Linked DNA regions of Homo sapiens: regions 1, 3, 4 and 5 are each linked to region 2. Evidence: fine-mapped expression QTL. A gene starts in region 2. Each other region holds a variant in brackets. All regions are shown on one strand. Distances are from middle to middle. Region 1 overlaps SPPL3 (signal peptide peptidase like 3). Region 2 holds the start of SPPL3 (signal peptide peptidase like 3). Region 3 has its middle 22 kb from the start of ACADS. Region 4 overlaps SPPL3 (signal peptide peptidase like 3). Region 5 overlaps SPPL3 (signal peptide peptidase like 3).

Evidence for each region. PIP is the estimated chance that this variant, and not a neighbour inherited with it, causes the effect.
Region 1: its variant is the best candidate, but not a certain one, in a credible set for the expression of SPPL3 in spleen (GTEx, PIP 0.56).
Region 3: its variant is the best candidate, but not a certain one, in a credible set for the expression of SPPL3 in whole blood (TOPMed, PIP 0.89).
Region 4: its variant is the best candidate, but not a certain one, in a credible set for the expression of SPPL3 in blood mononuclear cells (TOPMed, PIP 0.55).
Region 5: its variant is the best candidate, but not a certain one, in a credible set for the expression of SPPL3 in whole blood (INTERVAL, PIP 0.72).

Annotation. Positions count from the first base shown.
Region 1 is chr12:120,757,602-120,762,688 of GRCh38, reverse strand. SPPL3 (signal peptide peptidase like 3) reads left to right here. Exons shown (of 11, transcript NM_139015.5): 11 at 1-179. Among named protein-coding and RNA genes, the nearest start is that of ACADS, 34 kb to the right of the region's middle. The variant C/T (reference allele first, on the strand shown) is at 2,193.
Region 2 is chr12:120,901,338-120,906,440 of GRCh38, reverse strand. It overlaps SPPL3 (signal peptide peptidase like 3), which reads left to right and starts at 2,083. Exons shown (of 11, transcript NM_139015.5): 1 at 2,083-2,596. The coding sequence starts at 2,574. XLOC_009911 (a long non-coding RNA gene) reads right to left here and starts at 1,746. Exons shown (of 2, transcript NR_131215.1): 1 at 1,669-1,746. RefSeq lists silencers at 1,884-2,243, 2,324-2,543, 2,684-2,733.
Region 3 is chr12:120,744,978-120,750,080 of GRCh38, reverse strand. No RefSeq gene overlaps it. Among named protein-coding and RNA genes, the nearest start is that of ACADS, 22 kb to the right of the region's middle. RefSeq lists a silencer at 2,161-2,376. The variant G/C (reference allele first, on the strand shown) is at 2,739.
Region 4 is chr12:120,797,821-120,802,923 of GRCh38, reverse strand. The region is part of intron 2 of SPPL3 (signal peptide peptidase like 3); the gene reads left to right. Among named protein-coding and RNA genes, the nearest start is that of ACADS, 75 kb to the right of the region's middle. The variant C/G (reference allele first, on the strand shown) is at 2,523.
Region 5 is chr12:120,790,874-120,795,976 of GRCh38, reverse strand. SPPL3 (signal peptide peptidase like 3) reads left to right here. Exons shown (of 11, transcript NM_139015.5): 3 at 4,420-4,508. Among named protein-coding and RNA genes, the nearest start is that of ACADS, 68 kb to the right of the region's middle. The variant C/T (reference allele first, on the strand shown) is at 1,990.

The DNA of each region.
Region 1 (5,087 bases), 140 kb after region 2:
CTGGAAGGCGGAGGTTGCAGTGAGCAGAGATTGCGCCACTGCACTCAAGTCTGGGCGACAGGGTGAGACTCCATCTCAAAAAAAAAAAAAAAAAGGAAATGTTATCCTGGCAGTGGGTCATTTTAATTTTTCTGTCTTTGTTTTCATAAGAAAATTAAATTCCAGACAGAAGGAACGTCGTTATTTTGTCATTCTCACTTCTGTGCAGGTTTTGGGGGGAAATACCCACACAGGGCTGTGAATGCACCCTGGATTCCAGTTGCTAATCTTCAAAGCCCTTAAAACACTCCCTTAAAACTTTGGCAGAGAAACAGCAAATACTCTACTCGTCTCGGAGGGTTGAGTGGGTGGCTGCAGTTAAAGCACACATTAGACTTCCCTTCCAGTGCTCGTTTGCTCCCCGCTGCCTGATACACTTAGGTCCGCCTCTTATTCTGTTTTCTCAAATACCATGGTTTAGGGGTTTTCTAGGAAGTCTGCTGCATTAGGCATGGCATGCTCATGAAATTTCAGCAGATTCCTTCCTCACTGATCTGAAGTCCTTTTTCCTCACAAAGAGACTGTGTGTTACTAGAACTCCCGCTTTTTAATAACTCTTTTTTCTAGTTTGAGCTAATGAAGATATGACAGTAAAGTCTGTCCAAAGCCTAGTGTGTTCCATTGCTGTTATTACAGTGCATACGCTTTCTGAATGTGACAGTGACAGCTCCCCGCATAGGAACGGTTCGGTGGCTTGGGACTAAGCTACTGTCTGAATTACTTTTGTAGCAGGCTCACAGGCCTTGGGTAAACAGGTAAGTTAGGTCACCCACAAGAAAAACAAAAGTACTCGTTCTCTGTGAGGGTGGAGGGGAAGGGAGTTCCATTTTGCCAATCAAGTGTTAAAAATAGAACCTGCTGTGTCTGCTTAGCAGCTCTCACGTTACTGCTCACCAGATCCCATGTTGTGTGTACGTTTCTGTTTTGTAAAGCCTAGCGTTTACGTCAGAGCCTGGGAATGCAGCACTCGTGTCTATACATGGGAGTACATGCCTTAGGGACATCATTTATACAACCCCCTTCTCTACAGAGCTATGTCAGCGGTACAGGCTCAGAAGGAAGCCATCTCGGTCTCTTTCTGGTCTTCAGTGCACAGTGGCCAGGACAGCCTCCCCCACTTCACCGAATCACATTTCTTCAGCAGTTTCCAACAGTGAAATCATTTCTAGGACAATGGCTGCTAACACGTGTCAGCTGAAGCACTGCAGATCGAGTCATCCAACTCAAGCTTCTTCCTCTTATTGGAAGGGATAAACCAGGTAAGACTTTTTAATCCAGAAATTATTCCTATTCCCTGCAATGTATAGGGTGCTTTCTATCTGCAAAACTCTAAACTCAAATTTCTGCAGGTTCAGATTCCAACTGTCTCATGCGCAGAGACTCTCCCATCACAAAATTCTTCCCGCTCCAGCCATCATCTGTTTCCTCCTCAGCCTTTCCCTTGAAATCCAGAGCCCTTTCCTGTCCGTTAGAGGCAATCAGTCATGTTTCAGTGAAGCTTGAGGCACTGGGCCCCCCAGTGAACAAAACCAGACATCCTGACCCCCTACTCCTGCGGTCTGTGCAGGGCTTGCTTTAGCATGCTTGGCTTGTGGGGAGGGGGTGTGGCAGCCATTCCCACACAAGGTCACGCAGGGATGCCACAGTGCGTTCAAGAGTAGAATCCACAGCCTTCTCTCCGTAACTCTGGGCCTTGCTGTAAATAGCAGAGGCTTGGGCTGGGGATCCTGTATCACTGGACGGGATGTGCCAATGAAGAGAAGGCTGAGAAGCAAGTTGGTGTAGGAGAAGCCCAGTGCTCCTGGTGGACACAGGCCTGCATTCAACCAAATGTCTGAAGACAAGCGAAAGCCTACAGCCCCAAGCGCAATGATCTTTCGTCACTACAGGTTTCAGAAGTCTTACCGCACGGAGCCAGTGGTTAGCAGGTGCTTGATACAAACATCCTGCAGGGAGGCTGTGAAGATTCTAACTGCAGCACTTACGGAGGAGCACTTTAGCGTGCGGTAGATTTCCTAGATAACCTGAGGTCTTAAGAATTCATGCGGCAGACTCCGCTTCGCTTCTGGTTCCTTTCATTTGGAGTCTGCCTAACCAGTTTTTCTCTTAAGTTCCAAGACATCTTCTTCCTGTTGAGTAGAACCTGTAAAACA[C/T]GCCACCTGTCTGCAGGCGAACAGAGGCTCTGAAGGTTCCAAAATAGCTAAGCCCACGAGCTGTCTCCAGCCCCCATGGAGTCCTGGGATTCTCACCAGATCCAAAGATGACAGGAATGGGAACCAGTTAGGCAGAGGAAGCAAGACTTGAGAGACTGGGAGTGGGGAAGCCGCCAGGCAGTGGGCAGCAGGCCTGCGCTTGTGAGGAATGGGAGACAGGAAGTGGGTGTCCACAGGACAGAGACGGAGGGGGACAGCACGATGGTCACTGCATTCAACCAAATGTCTGAAGACAAGCGATCCAGCCCCGGGATCCCGACACCAGTTGCTCTGTCTCACCAGAGAGCCTCTCTCCAGGCGGACCACCTGTCAGCCTGCTACTGCCACCTTTCACTCTGCCCACCTGGAGCTGCTGGAGTGTAGCCACCACGTGAGCTTCTAGCTTTTGTGTTTGAGCCTTTGCCATTAGAGATTGAATTTCCTCACACCTGCGGTTGCTGTCGTGCCTTGATGGGGTTTTTATCCCCAGGCAGATAGTAACATATCCTGTGACAGCTCCCTGGGGAAGGCGGAAACCAATTTCAGAGAAAGAGGCTGAGCGCTTGCTAGTGCAGGGAGGAACTAAGATGACGAAGCATCGCACGGATGAGTCGTGGCCTTGCCGGCTTGACGGCGGGTAGAATGCAGTGCCACCCTCCCCAAGACCACCATCTGGCCAGGAGCCCCGGCCCCACCTTTCCTCCTTCGCTTGTGCCTCCTGGCACTTCCCGCAGCCCTCCCCTGTTGAGTGTAGGCGTTCTGCCCGGGGCAGTCGCTGTGAGAGAGGCCATGGCCTGGACTAGGGTGATGCGAAGAACAGAACTTGCTACCAGATTGGATGCAGGGTTGGGGACTCCACAGTGACTCCACACTTCTTAACCTGAACAATGAATTGCCAAAATAGATAACAGAAGAAATTGGGGAAGAAGAGTTGTTCTAGCCAATAGAGCAGCTAAAGCCAAAAAAAAAAAAAGTCTTCAGTGATGTAAAGCCTTGCAGAGTATGCGAGATGACCTGGACAGTGAGAGGCAGGAGGAAGACTGCTCTGTGGTGCTCTGAGTGTGAAGGCATTTGTCATGCGCATCCCCCACACAGCCACCATGGGGCTCTGGTTAGGGATGGAGCCCCCTGAGTCCGAGCTGCTTCATCTGAAATGGGGATGAAGGTGCCTCATAGAAAGTATTGAGTAAATATGAGGCGCTCTTCTGGTTTACTGTGTTCTCATATATTTCACACACAATGCTCAGAGAGTTGGAATACAGTTAAAATCATTAGATCTGTACGCTGTCATTATTCAAACCACCACAGCTCCCGGTTCATCATTAGGAATACTGGTTCTCTCCCCTCTGCTGAGGGGTGATTTCCCCCATCCAGGGTCTTGAAATTTTCTTCTACACACTGAAAGCCTTAGCACAAAGCTCCATATGCAGAGGGGGATGGTGGGTGACCCTGCCCATGCAGTTCCTCATTTTGGCTTCTTAAGGCCAAGAAGATCAACCTCTACCCAGATTCTGCACACAAACCAGTGTTGACGTTTTTATTTTTCTGTACTTTTTTTTTCCATAATAAACACTGCATGTGCCCTCTTTAACTTCAGTGTACTTTAAAGTCTTACTGCTTGTTTTGAGGGAAAAGTTTACTACACTGTGAAGCTCCCATTCTGTCAGTCTTTTGTGGGCCTGTATTAGTTGATACATCTAGGTTTTTCTTGAACACCCTTGGAACAAAAGACTCATGGGCCAGGGCCGGGCTCGGTGGCTCACGCCTGTAATCCCAACACTTTGGGAGGCCGAGGTGGGTGGATCACCTGAGGTCGGGAGTTCGAGACCAGCCTGACCAACATGGAGAAATCCCGTCTCTACTAAAAATACAAAATTAGCCGGGTGTGCTGGCATATGGCTGTAGTCCCAGCTACTCGGGAGGCTGAGGCAGGAGAATCGCTTGAACCTGGGAGGTGAAGGTTGCAGTGAGCCGAGATCGCACCACTGCACTCCAGCCTGGGTGACAGAGCGAGACTCCTTCTCAAAAAAAAAGACTCATGGGCCAAACTCCTATCCTGTGTTAAAATAAAACACAGTGTCATTCTAAGCCACTTGGCTCAGGTCAGTCCACTGAATAGGAGAGGGACAGTAGCCAGACTAGAGAGAGTGAAAGAGGAGATTCCAGCCACGCATTTGGAAAATTCTCAGTCCTCCAGGACACAGTGAAGCAATCAGGGCTGAGGCACCGTCTGATGAAGCAGATCAATAACTGGTGGGATGACCCATGACCCTCCCCAAAAGTCGCTGATGAAGGAGCTGATGCTACCTTGAAGGGATGGGCCCGGGCTTCGTCCTCAGCCCTGTCCTGTCCCACATCCCTCTTGATCATTTGGCCAGGGACACAGTTGCCAGGCTTCATTTGAGGAGAACGTGAAGCAAGGAGAAGGGACATACTCATGACCTAAAGAAAGCTCAGAGGCCTGGGGTGTCAAAGCAGATCTGGGGAGATCTGCTGGAGAGAGCCCCAGCCAATGATGGCCACACACCGGGTGTCAGTCATGCCTCCCAAGAGCCCTTTAATAAAGGCAGGTGCCATTACTGTCACCATTGTCACAAAGGAACTCGCCAAGACCCCAAGATCACAAATTGCTAAGTGGCAGAATAAGCTCTAAACACTGTCCCTAATCATTATATTCCATCCTCATCCCAGGATTAGAAATGATCTCCACCCCAGAAAATACAGGTAAGGCATAAACACTGATGGCTCTAGGGCCTACTCTTAGTTCCAAATACATTTAAATCCTACTCTTAGTTCCAAATACATTTAAATCCATCCACTGCCTGTAGCAAATAAAGATTCTTGCAACAGCGTCTG
Region 2 (5,103 bases):
CTTGACCTCATGATCCACCTGCCTTGGCCTCCCAAAGTGCTGGGATTACAGGCGTGAGCCATCGCGCCCGGCCTGGACCTCAATCTCATCAGTGAGCCTTTTCCCAGGGCTCTCTGATAGAGCTTTGGAGGAAACACTTGGAACCTAACTGGTCCTGGCACCTGGCAGTGGGGGAATAAGGAAGGAGAGCTTTGCTTCTGAAGGGAAAGTGTACTTGGCTTTCTCTTTAAAGGGTTTCCCTTGGGGAACAGGCAAGCGGCAGATGTATGGGCAATGGCCAACTGATCCATTTGGAGATAGATTCAGGGTGTGGTGTTCCCTGTAAGCCTGGGCAGGCCCTGGGAAACTGGAGCAGAGCTAAATTCTGGCCTAAAGTTGGGCAAGCTGCAGAGAAGCTTGAGTACGTTGGTTTCAGGTGTGTGAGTTTTGCCTTCTGCAGAGAAACAGGGGGGTGAAGGGTGGGGGTGGAGGGGTGTCCAGGAGGGTTAGTGTATCTGTTGCCCAGGCATGTTTCTAAATTCTGAAGCTGCACTGGTTAATCATTTTTATTCATGAACACAGTAACTGGCAAGGAGGCTTAGCTGGGCCCTCAAAGTCTGGCCTCAGTGCACCTTCTCAGTATATTTTCTCAACACTCCAGCACAAATCACCCATCCCACTCTCGGATTCAAGCTCACCAGGAATTGGGCCTTACTTCATGCCATTCTTTCTTTCTAGAATGCCTTTTCTTTTTTTTTTTTCTTTTTCTTTTTCTTTTTCTTTTTTTTTTTTTGAGACAGAGTCTCGCTGTTGCCCAGGCTGGAGTGCAGTGGCGCAATCTCGGCTCACTGCAAGCTCTGCCTCCGGGGTTCACGCCATTCTCCTGCCTCAACCTCCTGAGTAGCTGGGATTACAGGCGTCCACCACCACGCCCGGCTAATTTTTTGTATTTTTAGTAGAGACAGGGTTTCACCGTGTTAACCAGGATGGTCCCGATCTCCTGACCTCATGATCCACCCACCTCGGCCTCCCAAAGTGCTGGGACTACAGGCGTGAGCCACCGCGCCCGGCCAAAAGAATGACTTTTCTTTGATAAGCCTCTCACCCTTTCAGACGGCCTCATCCACTCCTGGGGAAGCATTCCGCAGTACCTGGGGCCTCAATTAATCTCTCTCTTCTCTCTCCATCTAAGCTCCAGATTCACTTTGTTGGTCTCTGGTCTAGCTCTACCGTGTTTATTTCTGTGCCGGTTTCCAGACCTCCAAATGGACGGTTTCCTGAGCCTTCTGCCCTTGCTGTTCCCTCTGCCAGGAACTCTTTTCCTGTGGATCTTTGCAAGGCCAGCTCTCTGTCATCATTCAATATCAGCTCAAATGTCACCTCCTAAGCGAGGCCTTCCTTGACCACCCTATCTAAAGTAACCCACACCTCTGCTCACTCTCTGTCCCCTCACCTTGTGTTACAAAATGTGTTTTTGTAAAACTTAGCAGCATCTGAAATTATCTTATTTGTGGGCTTGGACTATGTCTCTTCCTTTAGAATGTAAGCTCTAGGAAGGCAGAGTGAGTTGACACATGGTTGGCACCCAACAAATATCTGTTGATTGATTCTGTGAAGGCAAGCGTGGGGTATTCGACTTGGTGCCGGGCCTGGGCGCAATAAAGGTTGGCTGCCTGGAATATTTGCTACCTGAATGAATGAACCAAGGAACATACGAACGAAGGAATGCAGCCCTCTGCCTGTTGACTGACAGGTTGACTGACAGTTGGGGGGCCCGTGGCCAGCAGACTGTTGACTGACGGTTGACAGCTGAGTGGCAGCCAACAGACGCGCATCGGGGTTCCCGATTGGCTGGTGCAGCAGCCCCTCGGAGAGGGGCGGAAGAGGGTACCCGAGGCGACATCTCCGCGTGGGGAGGGGGGCGGCACCAGGCAGCGGGAGGCGGCCCAACTGCTCTGGCTGTGCGAGCAGCAGCCGCCTAGAACCCAGGAGCCGACGTCTCTGCGCATGGGCCCGGCTCGAGGGGCGGGGCGCGCATCACGTGAGCGTGTTTTGGGCACGTGACCCGCGCGGGGCCAAGGCTCGCCCCCGCCCCCGCCCCTCCTCCCCTCGGCGGGTGTGATCGAGTGGCCTCGCCTCATCGCCTAGCGCCCCCCTCAGTCGCCGCCGCCTCCGCCCGCCGGCCATGTCCCCCGGCCGCCGCCGCCGCCGCCCGAGCGCGGCGCTCCCGCGGCCCCGCGCGCAGTGAGCGCGGGCCCGTCTTGCCGTTCGCCCGCCCCAGGGCCCCCTTGTTCTCCGCGCCGCCGCCGCCGCCATGTTGGGTTTGGAGCTGCAGCGGAGCCGCCGCCGCCGCCGCGGGTGAGGGAGGCCGAGAGCGGAGCCCGCCCCGCCCCGGGGCCCAGGGAGCGGGGCCGCTTCGGAGCCCGGCCTCTCCCCGCCAGCCGCCTTCCCGGCCCGCCGTGCAGCCAGCGAGCCAGCGAGCGAGCAAGCAAGCAAGCACCGGACCCCGGCCGCGCCTTCAGCTACGGCCCGAGCGAGCCCGCCGCCGCCGGGCCCGGCCACAGCCTGCAGCGGAGCCCACGAGAGGCAGCGCCATGGCGGAGCAGACCTACTCGTGGTGAGTGCGGGGCTCCGGGAGGCCGGGAGGCGGCAAGGGTGGGGGTCGGGGCGCCGGCGCGGCCCGCCGAGGGGAAGAGGAGGAAGAACAGGTGCGTGTCGTGGGGGGGGGGCGCGGGTTGGGGTGCACGCCCCCCTCTTCCCCACCGGAGGGGGCGGCTGGCGCGCACGGAGGGCGGTGAGTGGCCGGGGACCTGGCGTCCGAGAAGGGGAATGGAGGAGGAGGCAGCGGCGGATGTCATCTGGCTATGGGCGGAGCAGGTGATGGAGAAGGGGAGCATGACCCCGGGGGTGGGAATCCCACGGATGGGAAGTTGAATCCGACAGGCACCCCGGAACTGACTCGTGGGGGTGTTTCCTGGGCAGGAGGACTCGAAGGGGTGGAGAGAGGCAGGCCAGGGCAAAGGTGGGCCGCTGGGCTGAGAGGAAGCTCTAGTGAGAACAGGTGATAGAGGCAGAACTTCTAAGTTGGGAGAGTGGAGCGGCCGCCGCTTGGCTCTGGGACAGGGAGCGCAGGGAGAGTTGGTGAGGTGGGCAGAGGCCCGGGAGTGAGGGGAGGAAAACTGCGGGGGTAGAGTCCACGAACCTTGGAGGGGAGTCACTGGTGAAGAGGTTGGAAGAGGAGCCTGAAGAACCTGTTTCCTTTTCCTTCTGGAAAAGGAATTCGTTGGTGACAGTGGGGCATGGGCAGAGTCTTTGTAAGGGTTGGTACTATTATTTTCAGAGGAATGGCGCCCAGGGCCAAGTGTGGAGGTGGAGGACCTGCAAGTTAAGTTCATTTCTGTGGGGCTTTTAAAGTTAGTAAGTAGCTCGTTAAGGGCCGAGAAGCGAGAAGCTACTGTGTAGTTTATGGGGTGACAACCTACATATCCGGAGAAGGGAGTGCCAGGGTTTGGGGGAAGGAACATGAGGGGTCTCCCTTTAGCATGTAGAGGTGGGATATTTGCAGGACGGGTTGAAGGAATGATGGCAGTATCCATGAAGAGTGGAAATCGGGTAGTGAGAAGGAAGTCATAGCTGGAGAGTGAGGAAGCAAGAAATGGCATGATCGTAGGAGTGGGGGACCTGATTGCAATTTAGAGAAATGGTTTGAAGATGGTTTACTCTTGAAGCAAATGTGGTTTGGGACAGAACTGTAGACATTCCCTTCTTAGAAAAGAGCATAATAGAATGGGACGAGCATGCCGTGTGGAGTTGGAAGACCTATTTCGGAGGTCCGGTTTGCCACCAACTTGCTTTGTTGATACGACATGGTAGTGAGTTCTTCGGTCCTTTTTCCTTACCTATAAAATAGAGGGAATTACCTTTTCCACAGCCTGTAAGGATTAAGTGAGTACATTTAGAAAGCACTTGGCAAACTGTGAAGTGCCACAGATCTTACTACATTAATTATAATTATCCTAGAGAAACATCTAAGAAATGGGTAATATCAGAAAATAAGGAATGGTTTTAGGTAGAAGACTTTGAGTGGATTATTTATAGTGTTAGAGGTTATAAGTCAGTAACTCATTGAGTCTTCACATAAGAGAAAGGGAGTTGGGGATTGAAGATGATAATTCTTAAGAGAACTTCATTGATGTATGTGCAATCTCAAGAAGAAGGTAACTGAGAGACAAAGTAACCCTAAAGGAAGAATTAAAATCTTGGTGAACACGTGCTCTAAAAAGAGGTTTAAGCTAATTTCATAGTTTTGCGTGACAGCTGCCTTTCAGTAGCAGGTCGTAGGGAACACAAGATTACAATTTCAGCTTCCTTCTGGACAGAGTAAGAAATGAAGGTAAAGGTGTTTCTGTCATGCCTTGTGGTTACTCATCTTGAGCTTCTCATACTCTGGCCCTAATGGCTGTGGCCCTGAGAGTCCTAATGGCTGCTTTGCTGTTTTTACTGTGCTGTACAGAGGCCCTGGATGGTTGAAAGAATAGAAAACTCAGTGGTCAAGAAATGGGGAAAATGAAAATGTTTTACTAGGTAGGTTGGACACACACGACCTCTCTCTGACATTAGTTGGCTCTATTAAGGAGGGATTACTTTGTGAAGTTTGACAATTTACAAATTTATTCTACTAAAATACTTCCTTCAATGTCAGCTCTGTTTGCTTTACAGGCAAAGAAACTCCTTGAAATCGGGGAGCTTAGCCCCTCAACCTTTGGCAGGTTTTGAGATGAAGAAAATTTTTACATTATCTGGAGAGAGGGTGGCATATAAGGGGAGACTGGGGAAAGTGGGCAGTTTCCTTTTTTTTTTTTTTTTTTTTTAGGACGGAGTCTCGCTCTGTCACCCAGGCTGCAGTGCAGTGGCGCCATCTCGGCTCACTGCAGCCTCCGCTTCCCGGGTGCAAGCAATTCTTATGCCTCAGCCTCCCGAGTAGCTGGGACTACAGCCACATGCCACCATGCCCGGCTTTTTTTTGTATTTTTAGTAGAGATGGGGTTTCACCATGTTGGCCAGGCTGGTCTCAAACTCCTGACCCAGTGATCTGCCCACCTCGGCTTCCCAAAGTGCTGGGAT
Region 3 (5,103 bases), 160 kb after region 2:
AGTAGGAAAATAGGAGAGAAAAGAAAATTAGAGGTTCGACCAAGAAAGTACAACATCAGACTTCTAGGAATTTAGAAAGCAAACCAAAAAAAAAGAGTGAATCAAGCTGGGTACAGTGGCTCACACCCATAATCCCAGCACTTTGGGAGGCCAAGATGGGAGGATCACTTGAGCCCAGGAGTTTGCGACCAGCCTGGCAACATAGCAATACTCTGTTTCTACTAAAAATAAAAAAAAATTAGCCAGGTCTGGTGGCAAATGCCTGTAATCCCAGCTACTCGGGAGGCTGAGGTGGGAGGATTGCTTGGGCCCAGGAGCCTGAGGCTACAGTGAGCCATAATTGTACCACTGCACTCCAGTGCGGACAACAGAGCAAGACCCTGTCTCAAAAAAAAAAAAAAGTGAATAAAATTATCAAAGAAATAATGTAATAGTTCCAAGAATTAAAGAACATGGAGGAAAAAAACATGGATCTCTAGATGGAAAGACCCACCACGTGCCCAGCTAAATGAATGAAAAATGACCCACATCAAGGTGTTCTGGTGTTCTGGTCAGTAGGTGGCATAAATAGATCCCAGCCCAGCGTGGTGGCTCCATTGCTAAAGATCTGATCAGTGGTGACCTGGGAATGTCCTGGAGGAGGGAATGCTGTGGCAGCTGTGATGATGCAGAATTTGAAGGCTATCCAGGGTGGAGGTGGGACAATGCCAGGGAAAGTGCCGAGGTGGCTGCTCACTGCTCAATCGTCCTGATGCTCTATCTGCAGCAAGTGAGAAACTGAGAACTGTGAACAAGCAGTTCACGGCTAAGTGTGAGCACCAGAGAGCCTTGGTATCGAGGAGTGTAAAAAAAGGCTTTTTTTTTTTTTTTTTTGAGACAGAGTCTTGCTCTGTCGCCCAGGCTGGAGTGCAGCGGCACCATACCATTCCACTGCACCCTCCGCCTCCGCCTTCCGGGTTCAAGCGATTCTCCAGCCTCAGCCTCCCAAGTAGCTGGGATTACAGGCGTGCACCACCACGCCCGGATAATTTTTGTATTTTTAGTAGAGTCAGGGTTTCACCATGTTGGCCAGGCTGGTCTCGAACTCCTGACCTCAGGTAATCTACCCACCTGGGCCTCCCAAAGTGCTGGGATTACAGGTGTGAGTCACCATGCCCGGCCTGAGTGGATAATCTATTGAAAGAACTAACGAAGTTCTTCAACATAACCAGATAAACAGAAATAAAAACGAAATATGTCAGCAATAAACAATTTTTTTTAATAGTGGGTGACTTCTGGTTTGCCCCAAGGTGGTGAACTAGCATATAGGTTGTTGGCTTCCTGCCTTAGCCAAAGCCTGAGTGCTATAGAGATTAAAGGAAAGCATATTGATTCAGGGAACTAAAGATCAGAAGAAAATTCTAGGGAGAGAAGGCGGTTGTGAGCAAATGTAGAGGGGAGCACAGCAGACCTGAGTGAGGCAGAGCTGGGGGCTATGGCGGATGAATCGGGACCCCTTCCTACTTCAGTTATTAACTAGAAGGATTCACATGACCTGATGAGGTTATATCACAGCTAAGGTTGACTAAGCGAAGGATACACCACGGGACCAGAGAGAAAGATACACATAGACAAAGTCCAGGGAGGCCGAGAGCAGGCTGCACGGTGTGTTTCTTTCCAGGTGTGAACCACAGAGATGTGAGATGTCTCTGCCCAGGGAAACACCCAGGTCTCAAAACCTGTTGTTCTAAGAAGATGGTCACATAGGCACTTTCCTGCCACATGACCAGCCATGGTAACCAAAACACAGCACTCCAAAACAGAGGCCAGACGCACATCCTAAGTTTTTTTTTTTTTTTTTTTTTTTTGAGACAGAGTCTGTCTCTGTCCCCCAGGCTGGAGTGCAGTGGCACGATCTTGGCTCACTGCAAGCTCCGCCTCCTGGGTTCACGCCATTCTCCTGCCTCAGCCTCCCACCCCCGGCCCCGAGTAGCTGGGACTACAGGCGCCCGCCACCACACCCACCTAATTTTTTGTTTTTGTTTTTAGTAGAGACGGGGGTTTCACCGTGTTAGCCAGGATGGTCTCGATCTCCTGATCTTGTGATCCGCCCGCCTCGGCCTCCGAAAGTGCTGGGATTACAGGCGTGAGCCACCGCGCCCGGCCGCACATCCTAAATCTTGATGTTAAACATTCTGACATCTGACAGGCTGCTCATCCTGCCCCAGTGCACCAGGCCTACAGATTAACATTCATCAGTAACTACATGCACCTTCCAAGAGTTTCCTTCTCAGCTTGTCCCAGGTCAGTGCCATAGCTCCAGGCACTCCCAGAGAGCAGCAAAGACTGAGTAAGCCAGGCCTGCTCACAACAGAAACGCAGACTGTGGAAACCCTTGGCCTTTCCTCTTGCCTCTTTTAGAACTCTCAATAGAGCCATCTGGGCCAGATACCGTGTTTTTTTTTTTTTATTAAAAAAAAAAATACTGAGCTGGAAGCATTAATGTCCACCTATTTTAAGTGTACAGCCTTCGTGACTCTTTCCACATGACTATACCTGAACCACCACCACTCGGATCAGAATATAAAACCTTTCCAGCACCCAGCAAGCTTCTCTTGTGCCTCTTGTCAGTGGCCCCCAAGGTAACCACTGTTCTAATTTCAGTCACCACAGATTAGTTTTGCTTGCATTTGAAATTCATGTAATACAGTGAATACATTATGAAGTCTTGACTATAAACTTTTTTGAGACAGAGTCTC[G/C]CTCTGTCCCCCAGGCTGGAGTACAGTGGTGCAATCTCGGCTCACTGCAACCTCCGCCTCCCGGGTTCAAGCGATTCTCCTGACTCAGCCTCCTGAGTAGCTGGGATTACAGACATACGCCACCACGCCCAGCTAATTTTTGTTATTTTTAGTAGAGACAGGGTTTCACTCTGTTAGCCAGGATGGTCTTGATCTCCTAACCTCATGACCCGCCTGCCTCGGACTCCCAAAGTGCTGGGATTACAGGCGTGAGCCACCATGTCTGGCCTACCTTTTTTTAAATTTAACTTTGTTTGCTTGTTTTGAGATGGGGGTCTCCTTATGTTTCCCAGGTTGGTCTCCAACTGCTGGAGCATCCTCAAGCAATCCTCCTACCTCAGCCTCCAAGTAGCCAGGGTTATAGGTGCACGCCACTGTGCCCAGCTTTGAGCCTAACCTTTTTTGCTTAATGTTACATTTGTAAGATTCAGCCATGTTAGCAATTTATGGTCAGTAGTTCATTCTTTTTTATAGTTGTATGTATGCTCATTGTTGGAATACAGCATTTCTCCTCAATAATTGTACCAATTTACCCTTCCGCCTGCTCTGAGAGGCAATTCCAGTTGAGTTACATTTCCACTGACTCTGTTAGGAGATGCCTTTTGTGGGGACAAATGTTTAACTCCTTTTCAATTTGTTCTAGTCTTACTGGTCTGTTTTTTGTGTTTGTTTGTTTTTTCTGCCTTCTCTAGAATCAATTCTGTGTATTTGTTTTCCTGGAAGATAAATCATTTATGTAGATTTTAAATTTCATCAGCATGAGTATGATAGTTTTTTTTTTTGTTTGTTTTGTTTTTTGAGACGGAGTCTTGCTCTGTCGCCCAGGCTGGAGTACAGTGGCACTATCTCGGCTCACTGCAACCTCTGCCTCCCTGGTGCAAGCGACTCTCCTGCCTCAGCCTCCTGAGTAGCTGGGACTACAGGTGCATGCCACCATGCCCAGCTAATTTTTGTATTTTTAGTAGAGATGAGGTTTCACCATGTTGGCCAGGCTGGTCTCAATCTCTTGACCTCGTGATCCTCCCACCTCAGCCTCTCAAAGTGCTGGAATTACAGGCGTGAGCCACCGCGCCCGGCTGAGTATGATAGGTTTTGGTATGCCATGTTTTCATTTTGTGTATTAAATATAAAATACACAAAAATCAAATTGTATTAAAATCTCGTACCAAAAACATGAGTCCCCTGACTCGCCCGTCTCACTTCCTCGGACTCTTTTAGTATTTATATGTTTATCTTTTTTTTTTTAAGATGGGGCCTTGCTATGTTGCTAATGCTCACGTGAGCGTGGAAGGGAACGGAGTTTCAGATGAGACTGCAGTCCCTTGCTTTCAGTTTGTGAGACCCTGGACAGAGCATCCAGCTAAGCCACGCCCAGACTCCTGAACCATGAAAACTATGAGATGGGTTTGTTTTTTTGGTTTTTTTTTTTTTTTGGTTTTTTGACAGGGCCTTGCTCTGCTGCCCAGGCTGGAGTGCAGTGGTGTAATCTCAGCTCGCTGTAGCCTCGAACTCCTGGGTTCATGTGATCCTCCTAATTTAACCTCCCAAGTAGCTGGGAGTACAGGCATGCATCACTGAGCCTGGCTAATTTTTTTTTTTTTGTAGAGACAGGGTCTCACTATGTTGCCTAGGCTGGTCTTGCATCCCTGGCCTCAGGTGATCTTCCCTCCTTGGCCTCCTGTGTAGCTAGGACTCTAGATATGCGGCACTGCGTCCAGCTAATTTATTTTTTATTTTTTGTAGAGATGGGCTCTCCCTGTGTTGCCCAGGCTGCTCTTGAACTCCTGGGCTCAAGCCATCCTCCCACCTCGGCCTCCCGAAGAGCTGAGATTACAGGGCTGAGCTGCTGTGCCTGGCCCTTTAAGATGGGTATTTCTTCAAGCCACTAAGCGTGTAGTGATGTGTTGCTAGAGTAGAAAACCAATACCAGTGTAGCGTCGCTTTCTCATCAGCTCCAGCCTGTCCCCAGCTGGGTGACACTGGGCTTCGACCGCAGTCATGGGCCCGGCAGCCAGGAGAGGAGGTGAGGGCCGCTGCAGAGGGGCACCTGTGGCCTTGTTGGGAGCGGCTTCCGCAGACTCTTCCAGTAGCAGAAGCCCTCACCTTCCTATGGAGAGGCAGCCACCCTCTGCACCCTGGAGAGTTTGGGCTGGAGAGCAGCATCAGGGGCATCCGTTCAGATGGCTCCGTTTTCCGGATGCCAGGTTTTCCTTCCCACGCCCCTGCCCTTGGCCTAAGCAATCTGCCGGGGCTGAGTCTTCAGGCTCTGGAGCTCTGCAAATTCCTGTTAGGTCTCTGGCCTGCCTGCACCATGTCTGCCCTTCTG
Region 4 (5,103 bases), 100 kb after region 2:
ATTTCAGCAAAAGCAGTTTTGCCAAAATTGAAGGTGCACAGTGGGCAACAGGATGTTGTTGTTTAGATAACCATCTTACTGCTAAGTGTGGTCTAAGGTTATATTTTGGAATATCTGGAGAATGAATGGGCTGTTAATTCTTAAACTGGTTATTCTTGAATGTTGATCTGTTAATAAATATTGGTAGCAGACCAGGCACGGTGGCTCACGCTTGTAATCCCAGCATGTTCAGAGGCCAAGGTGGGAGGATCACGTGAGGTCAGGAGTTCCAAGACCAGCCTGGCCAACATGGTGAAACTCCATCTCTACTCAAAATACAAAAATTAGCCAGGCGTGTTGATGCATGCCTGTAATCCCAGCTACTCAGGAGGCTGAGGCAGGAGAATCGCTTGAACTGGGAGGCAGAGGTTGCAGTGAGCCGAGATTGCGCCACTGCACTCCAGCCTGGGCCACAAACTGAGACTCCATCTCAAAAAGGAAAAAAAAAAAAAATATATATATATATATACACACACACACACACACATATATGTGTATATATATACATATATATGTATATATATACACACATACATACATACATACATATATAAAAGCAGCAGCCCAAAAATGTATTATGTTGCCAGCTAAATACAGACCTAGTTGTCTTAACAGCACTCATGGTGCATTCGTATTTTTATCAGAATGAAGGAACCTAATACCTAAATATAAGCCCATGTTTCCCCTTGTCCTGAGGCAGGCAGTGGAAGTTCCTAAAGGCAGGCCTAGAATCTTCCTCAGAAAATCCTTTTTAATCCACTCTAGGACATAAAGAAATGAGTAGTTGATTTCCTAAAGTTCTGTTCCTTGCAACTGAATTAATTCTAGCCTGAAACAAATTTAGGGCAAATATAACCAGATCTCTACCTCAGCCACACTAAAATCTTATTAAGGCACTCACAGAATATTAATATACTTCTTGATATAGTGTCTGTAATAAACTTCATGTGAAATGTACATCAAAGTGACCAAAACACCAAACTGGAATTTATACTTACACCCAATTTAAAGTTGAAGAATGTTGATGAGTTGTCATTCTAACTGACACTAATTAGCTGACAGGGTCAGTGGCCATCTGGACCTTACCCAGTTCAAGGCTAAACCATATCATTCACCTATAAAGCCTGCTGGTCTTAATATTTCTCTGTAGTAAGACAGCTCATGTGCAGCTTATCTAAAAATGATACCAGATCAAGTTTACTTGGGGAGAAATACTCTGTAGGTTTTTTTGTTTGTTTGTTTTTATGAGAAAAAAGCAGTATATACTAATGTGGAAAGATGTAGCGCGTCAAGCAGTGAGCCCATTACTTGGTGTAACAGGGCCAAGGGAAAACTTCCTCTGTGCCCCCTGAATCCTCGCTGAAAAATCCACTGACAAATAGCAGATTAATAGAAAAGGCATACAGATTTGTTAATGTGCACAAAAGTCTTACAAAATATAAGATCTCAAAAAAAAAAAATGGCCAGATGGCTGATGCTTTTATACCACCTTGAGGTTACAGAAAGAATGAGGGCTTGGAGTGTGGCAAGACAGGTTATGGTGGTAAATCAGGTTATGGTGGTGAGACAGATTATGAGAGAGAGAGAAGAGGAGGCCCAGCTAGCACAGGTGGTCCTGTCATGTAGATGAAACCTCACAGGTCGCAGCCCTGAGAGAGAATAGATGGAATATGTTTCTTTCTGACCTTCTAAGGTGTCAGACTCTCAATTAATCTTTCCTGTGTCTGGACAAGGTAGGGCCTCAGAGAAATGCCTCCACCTCATCAATGCATATTTTCTCTACAGATGCAAATCTGCCCCACACAGCTTCTCTCAGCTATTCTTGTATTTCCAGCCCTTCTGAAAACCATCTGAAATATGTCAGAGAAGTATATTTTTGGGTGAAATATTTTTGTTTCCTTCATAATTTTGCCAAGGCAGCAGGCATAAGCTGGAATTTGTGGTCACCCCACTCATGGAGTTTTTCTGTGAATCAAAAGAAACCTTGCCTGTAAAGCACCTAGCAGTGCCTGACAGTATGAGCTCAATCAAGCTTAACTATTATCATCATTTTAACCCCCTGGATGTTCTCAGCTGCTGAGTCAGAGACTGTTTCTTCCTGCCCAGGTTCTTAGTCTTTCTTTCTTAGTGTAGGTTCTATGTAAGTATCAATAATTGGACATTTGTTGACCTCCTACACCTTGACCCATAACTACTTCCTGTTCAGTCATAGTTGATGAAAAGACAAAAAAAAATAGCATATAATATGCTATAATTTAGATGGATTTTTTTTCTGTGATGGTAAATGGTTGTCTGTGATGAAAAAGCCATAGCTCAAGTCCTTCTGTTGATCATTTAAACATTGATTTCTTTTTCTTGTTTTGTTTTTTGTTTTTTTGTTTTGAGACTGAGTTTCATTCTTTTGCCCAGGGTGGAGTGAAGTGGTGTGATCTCAGTTCACTGCAACCTCCACCTCCCGGGTTCAAGCAGTTTTCTTACCTCAG[C/G]CCCCTGAGTAGCTGGGATTACAGGTGTGCGCCACCAGGCCCAGCTAGCTTTTGTATTTTTAGTAGAGACGGGGTTTCACCATGTTGTCCAGGCTGGTCTCGAACTTCTAACCTCAGGTGATCCACCAGCCTCAGCCTCCTGAAGTGCTAGGATTACAAGCATGAACCACCGCACCTGACCTAAACATTGATTTCAGTACCTAGACTTGCAAATAGCCAGGATACAATTTGGATGGAATGTATATTTATAACGTTATATTAACATCATATTATGTTACTGTATAGCAATAACAAGATTGTGAAGGCAGGTCAAGATGGAAGAGAATGAAGAGTAGTCTTCTGTGAAGATGCAGCGAACTGTTCTAGGTCCAACCTAGCAATCTGATGTCTATGCACTTAATAAATTACCAAATAAGCTAAGTTAAAGGCCTATAATTGAAAATAGTCCTGGATAGCTTTGGAGGCAGAGTCTTTTGCAAAGGCTTTATTTAAACAGCTTAAGTTTGCTGTCAGCTGTGCAGTGTGAGTAACTTTACCGGACCCCAGTCATAGTGGCATGGGATCTGCTAAGCCCAGGCCCTTTAAGCTTGTTGTATAAAGCTGGAAGATATGAATCTTCCCAGCTTGAGCTAATAGGTAAGGCCCTACTAACTCACTGTGCCCCATTTCTGTTTTGTGCAGCGGTGACCCATGGTCTGCTTCTAACAACCAAACAAGGCTTGATTTTAGCTAAGCTTGTTTGAGGCAGTGAGAAGTTCAAAGTCTTCTAATTACACAGAGAACTAGAAGAATGCTTGCTCTCCTTACCAGTCCTCCACCCTCCCCCACCATCTGATAGTACCTCATTCCTGCCTAAGGCTTTCCTGTCCCTGCTGCAGTTCTTGTCAGTTAGATGCTAAGAAAATGGACCAGCTAAAACTGGTTTGAAGTTGACCACTACTTTCTGCTACAGAAGATCCCTAGCTTACCAACGGTTTGACTTAATGATGGTTCAACTTAAGATTTTTCCACTTCATGATGGTACAAAGGCAGTATGATTTCAGTAGAAAGCATACTTCAAGTACCCATACAACCATTCTGTTTTTCACTCTCAGTACAGTATTCAGTAAGTTACTTGAAATATTCAGCACTTTATTACAAAACAGGCCTTTGTGTTAGATGATTTTGCCCAACTGTAGGCTAATGTACGTGTTCTGAGCACGTTTAAGGTAGGCTGGGCTAAACTATGATGTTCAGTAGGTTAGATGTATGAATATTAAACGCATTTTGAACTTGAGATTTTTCCACTTACCTGGGCTTATTGGGATATAACTCCATTGTAAGTCAAGGAGCAGCTGTATTTGAAAAAAGGGGAAAATCTTGCCTTAAAACATCCAGGATGGAGTTATAAATAGTTCTCAACTAATAACAAATTGAAATTGAGTTATATAACCCTTCATCCTGTCCCGCGGGGGGTTCTCAGCACCTATTCTCACTAACCCAGTCTCATGGGAGAGGCTCCGTAGCAGCTGTGCCTAGGGTTAAACCAAAGAGATGACTGGCAACCTTCCAATCCAGAATAGCGATATAATGCCAACAGAAAAAGTAAGAGAAGCTGGCAATCTGTGTAGCCCCAAGGGTAGAGATGTAGATAAAAATTCCTGCACATTTAACCTGCTGTCACCAGATTCTGAGAAGCAGAATATAACAAGTGTAGTTATTGTTATTCCATTCATAAGTGAATTTGAAAAACTCAATTTAAATTAATATATGTGTTTCCAAAACATGCCCACAGGGAAGGAGCAGTCTTCATGTTCCATTGACTCCAGAGACGTTCCCATTAAATGCATCACCAACCCTAGAGTTTAGGTCCTGCACATTGTTAGCTCTGCTGTGCGAAAACATGAATTAAAGCTTAAAAGATCATAGAAGTGAAACCATGTACTAGAAACTACCACAGGTGCGTTGGCAGGGGAAATATATGCAAAATACTACATCTAGTTTGTTGTGGAACTAATTAGGAAAAAGTTTTTCAGGAGCCAGTTGCCATAGCTATTCCTCTAAGTGTGACTGAGGTATGAGCAGTAAGTGTACGTTTTAATCTCTGCTAATGTGTCTTCCTCTGATGGCTGGAGAAATATGTCTCAAATACTGTATATGAATCTTCTAAAATCCAAGGCTTTTTTAAAATAAAAAAACCCCCAGGAAAGCCAACACATCAGACACCTGACCATATTTCAGAAGAGGAGTCTTAACCATGTTTCAGGGAGTCCACCACATCTAAAAGTCGCTGTGTTTTGGTCCTGCTGGGGAGCTGTCACCCACTGGGGCTGCCCTCCAGTGGAACAGTTTGCTAAACAGTTCGTTGGCCAGATTTATATGAGAACAGGGTGACATGTAACTAACCAGTCTCTACTTCATAGATTATCCTCCCCAGACCCCCCATTCTAATTGAGGCTTCCTTGGTACCAGTAACAGAGAAGGGAGTTTTAGTGAATGAAAGTACAGGAAACAAGAGTGGCAGCTAGAGTCAGGCTGTTAGTAGAGGGGCAAGTCTTTCAAATCCAGTAAGAAATTTTGAGTCATAGAGGTGGGAAACTAC
Region 5 (5,103 bases), 110 kb after region 2:
TTAGTGAACTTGAAGGCACAGTAATGGAAATTAATCCAAAATGAAGTACAGAAAAGAATAATTTTTTTAAACATGAAAAGATCATAATGGAGCTATCATTGAACATTAGAGAGAAACCTCCAGTGGCCTACTGTATGGGTAATGGAGTCCCTGAAAGAGGAGAAGAAAGGGAGGGACAGAATAATACATGAAGAAATAATGGCCAAGTTTTTTCTAAATTTGATAACTATAATCTGCAGATTCAAAACTGCAGATTATAAGCACAAAAAACATGAAGAAAACTACACCAAGACACATAATCAGTAGCTCAAAATGAGTGGTAAAAGAAAATCCCCAAGGCTGCCAGAGGGGGCAAAAAAGCATGTTAGGTACAGAGGAGAAAAGATGAGGGTGATGTCAGATTTGAAAATACAAGTGAAAAGTCAATGTAACGGTAGCTTTAAAGTACAGGAAGAAAAAAACTGTCACTGTAAGATTCTACAGCAAAAATATCTTTTAAAAATGAAGGCAAAGTAAAGATGTTTTTGACATACCATACACTACCGGAAAGAATTCATCTCATCACCAGCTGTCTTACACTAAAAAATGTTAAAGGAAGTCTTTTGAGCAGAATGAAAATGGTACCAGCCTTAAATCTGTATTTACACAAGGGAGTTAAGATCACCAGAAATGAACATCCATCGATAAAAGTTTTTTTCTATTTACAGTTGTGTAAAAGATAATTGACTGGAGCTGGGCACAGTGGTGTGTACCTGTAATCCCAGCTACTTGGCAGGTTGAAGCAGAAGGATTGATTGCTCAAGCCCAGATGTTTGAGACCAGCCTGGGCAACATAGCAAGATGAATGAAAGAATGAATGATAATTGACAACATAAACAAACATTATATATTGTGAGGTTTATAAGATAACATGTAAGAGTTAAATGCATGGCCACAGTAGCACAAAGGTTGAGGGAGGGAAATAAATATAAACTATTGTAAGGAGTTTATACTATACATGAATGTTACAATATAACTGGAAGGTAGACTGTGTTAAAGATGTATACTATAGACCCTACAGCAGCCACTAAAATTAAAGAGCAAAGAGTTATAGCTCATAGGACAACAAAGGAGATCAAATTGGATCATAAAAAATGCTATATTAATCCAAACAAAGTCAGGTTAAGGGGAAATAAAATAGGACAAGTAGGAAACAAATAGTAAGATGATAGGCTCAAACTTAATTGTATCACTGATCACATTCAATGAAATTGGTCTACACACCTCTTTAAAACAGCAGTTGTCCAGGTGCAGTGTCTCACGCCTCTAATCCCAGCACTTTGGGAGGTCAGGGCAGGCGGATCATGAGGTCAGGAGTTCGAGACCAGCCTGGCCAACATAGTGAAACCCCGTCTCTACTAAAAATACAAAAATTAGCAGGGTGTGGTGGCATGCGCCTGTAGTCCCAGCTACTCGGGAGGCTGAGGCAGGAGAATTGCTTGAACCTGGGAGGCAGAGGTTGCAGTAAGCCAAGACTACACTGCTGCACTCCAGCCTGGGTGACAGATTGAGACTCTGTCTCAAAAAAATAAAAATAAAAATAAAACAGCAATTGTGAAATTGAATAAAAAAGCAAGACCCAAATATATGCTGCTTACAAGAAGCACACTATAAAGCCAAAAAAGGTTAATCCCTGTTGTCTAGTGGTTAGGATTAAAAAAAAAATAGTTAAAAGTAAAAGGTTAGGAAAAGATATGCTGCTTATACTCATCTACAGAAAGCTGGAATGGCTGTATTAATATAAGACAAAGCAGCTTTCAGAGTAAAGAATACTACCACAGACAAGAAGGTTATTTTGTAATGACAAAGGGGTCAATTAAGCAAGAGAGCATAACAATCACAAATGTTTATGTATCTAATAAAAGATCTTCAAAATACATGAAGCAAAAACTGAGAGAACTGCAAGGAGAAATAAATTCACAAATATAGCTGAAGATTTCAGTACCACTC[C/T]CAATAATAGAATAATTAGGCAGAAAATCAGTGAAGATACAGTGGATTTCAACAATACTCTTAATCAATTTGACCTAATTGACATTTATAGAATGTTCCATCCAACAACAGAACACACGCTCTTTCTCAAGTGTATGTGGAATATTTACTAATGCAGACCATATATGGGGACATGAAACAAATCTCAATACATTTAAAAGGATTCAGGTATGAAATCTGATCTGCATTAGCCCAGGCTGCCATGAAATACCCATAGACTGGGTGGCTTAAACAGCAAATTTATTTTTTCAGAGTTCTGGAGATTGGAATTCTCAGGTCAGGGTGTCAACATGGTTAGATTCTGTTTTCCAAAGTGTCTGCACCAGTTCACATTCCCACTAGTAGTGTATGAAGGTTCCAGTTTTACATCCTTGTGTCCTTGCCAACACTTAGTTATCTGACTTTTTTATTATAGCCATCCTGCTATGTGTGAAGTGGTTTCTCATGGTGGTGGTTTTGTTTTGAGGAGACAGTGTCTCACTTTGTTGCTCAGGCTGGAGTGCAGTGGTGCCATCAGCCTTGACCTCCTGGGCTCAAGTGATCTCCTACCTCAGCCTGGCGAGTAGCTGAAACTGTAGGCACATGCCACCACACCCAGCTAATTCTTTTATTTTTTATAGAGACAGGGTCTCACTGTGTTGCCCACATGGGTCTCAAGTGAGCCTCTTGCCTCAGCCTCTCAAAGTGCTGGGATTCCAGGCGTGAGCCACCGCTTCCAGCCAGTTTCTCATGGTTTTGACTTGTATTTCCCTGATGACTAACGGTGTTGAACATCTTTTCATGGGCTCATTGGCTATTTGTGTATCTTCTTTGAAGAAATGTCTCTTCAGATCCTTTGTTCATTTTAAAATCAGGTTGTCTTTTTTATTATTGAGGTGTAAGAGTTCTTTATATATCCTAGACACAAGTCCCTTATCAGATACATGATTTGCAAAGATTTTCTCCCATCCTATGGGTTGTCTTTTGACTTTTTGGTTAGTGTCCTTTGAGGCACGTAAGTTTTTTAAGTTTTTCTCTGTTTTTTAGCATCATATCTAAGAATCTACTCCAAATCCAAGGTCACAGAGATTTACCATGTGTTTTTATCTAAAAGCTGTATAGTTTTAGAAGTCAGTTCCTCTGTCCTACCAGCCACATTTCAGTGATCACATGATGTGGCTGATGTCCACAGCACTTGTCAGTGCAGATAAAGACCATCATAACAGAAAGTTCTTTTGCAAAAAAACAACTTTTTTTTTTTTTTTTTTTTTTTGAGACAGTCTCACTCTGTTGCCAGGCCGGAGTGCAGTGGCGCAATCTTGGCTCACTGCAACCTCTGCCTCCTGGGGTCAAGCAATTATCCTGCCTCAGCCTCCCAAGTAGCTGGAACTACCGGCACGCACCACCACGCCCAGCAAATTTTTGTATTTTTAGTAGAAACGGGGTTTCACCATGTTGGCCAGGATGGTCTCGATCTTCTGACCTCGTGATCTGCCCGCCTGGGGCTCCCAAAGTGCTGGGATTACAGGCGTGAGCCACTGCACCCACAAACACCTTCTTTACAGGAAAACACTAGCAGAAAATTAGCTAAGAACTTGGACAGATACTTCACAAAAAAAAAGAAAGAAATGAGCAAGCTTTTGTACACAACATTATTCACTGGTTAAAGAATTCTAAATCAAAGTGACGTGCCATTTTTAGTTCCCCAGATAGACAGTGACTACTTCCTTCAGGTCTTGACTCTGAAGTCACTGTCAGTGAGGCCTTCCTGTTCATCCTGTCTAAAATTTCAAACCCTAACCCCTGCATTTCCTAGTTTTCCTCCTTAGCACCTGCCATGAACACGCTATGTATTGAACTTATTTTTCTGGTCTATTACATCTCCCCCCTTGAATATAAAATCCAGTCTTGTGTTTGCTATTTATTGTCCCTGTAGTACCTAGAACAGTTCCAGATATAGAAGACACTCAAATTTTTTTTGTTGTTGAATCACAGCTGACAGGGTATAGGGAAATGAGTGCTCTCATACACTGCTGAGAGAGTGAACTGATGCAGCCTTTTTGCGAACAGTTGTGTGGTATGTAAAAGTCTCAAAATGTGCTTGCCCTTTGACATTTCTCCTTCTAGGCTTTTATCATAAGGAAGTAATTAAGGATATGATATGCTCAGAGATAGGAGTGGAAGATTCAGCTGCATTGGGATGCTTTCATCTGCAGTCAGGAAAACTCTTGAACTGACACATTGGAAGGACTGAAGATTGTTTTTTAAAATGTTACAAGAGCTATTTTTCAGAGTTGTTCAAAAGAGACCTTCTTTCCTAATTCCTTGGCATTTAAAAATATTGTCATATGACTTTTCTGACCTTCTTTTGTAAGCAAAACTACAACTTAACTACAAAATTTTTTTCCACAGGTCCCTTAATATGGACTTTGAAAATCAAGATAAGGAGAAAGACAGTAATAGTTCTTCTGGGTCTTTCAATGGCAACAGCACCAATAATAGTAAGATATTTTATGTCAATTAACTTCTGTACATATAGTTTTCTTAATTTGGCTGTTTCTATACCTCCAGTTAATAATTTACTGGGTTCAAGGATTTATGATTGGTATAAAAAAACATTGAATTATACTTAAAATGAGTGAATTTTACGGTATGTAATTGTACCTCAATAACGTTAATAAAAATGTTTGATGCTTATAGAAAGATTTGAATTTGAAGTGACTTGATTTGATAATATTAATACATTTATATTGAGATCTGCCATGTACTCAACATTCTGTTAGATCTTTTGAAAGATGCAAAAGTACAAGAGAAATTTTTGCCAAGATGTTCTTTAAAAAGTGCCAAGATATCCAGGCGCAGTGTCTCCCACCTGTAATTCCAGCACTTTGGGAGGCCAAGGTAGGCAGATCACTTGAGGTTGGGAGTTCAAGATCAGCTTGACCAACATGGAGAAACCCTATCTACTAAAAATACAAAATCAGCCAGGTGTGGTGGCGCATGCCTCTAATTCCAGCTACTACTGAGGCTGAGGCAGGAGAATCGCTTGAACCCAGGAGGCAGAGGCTGCAGTGAGCCGAGATCGTGCCATTGCAC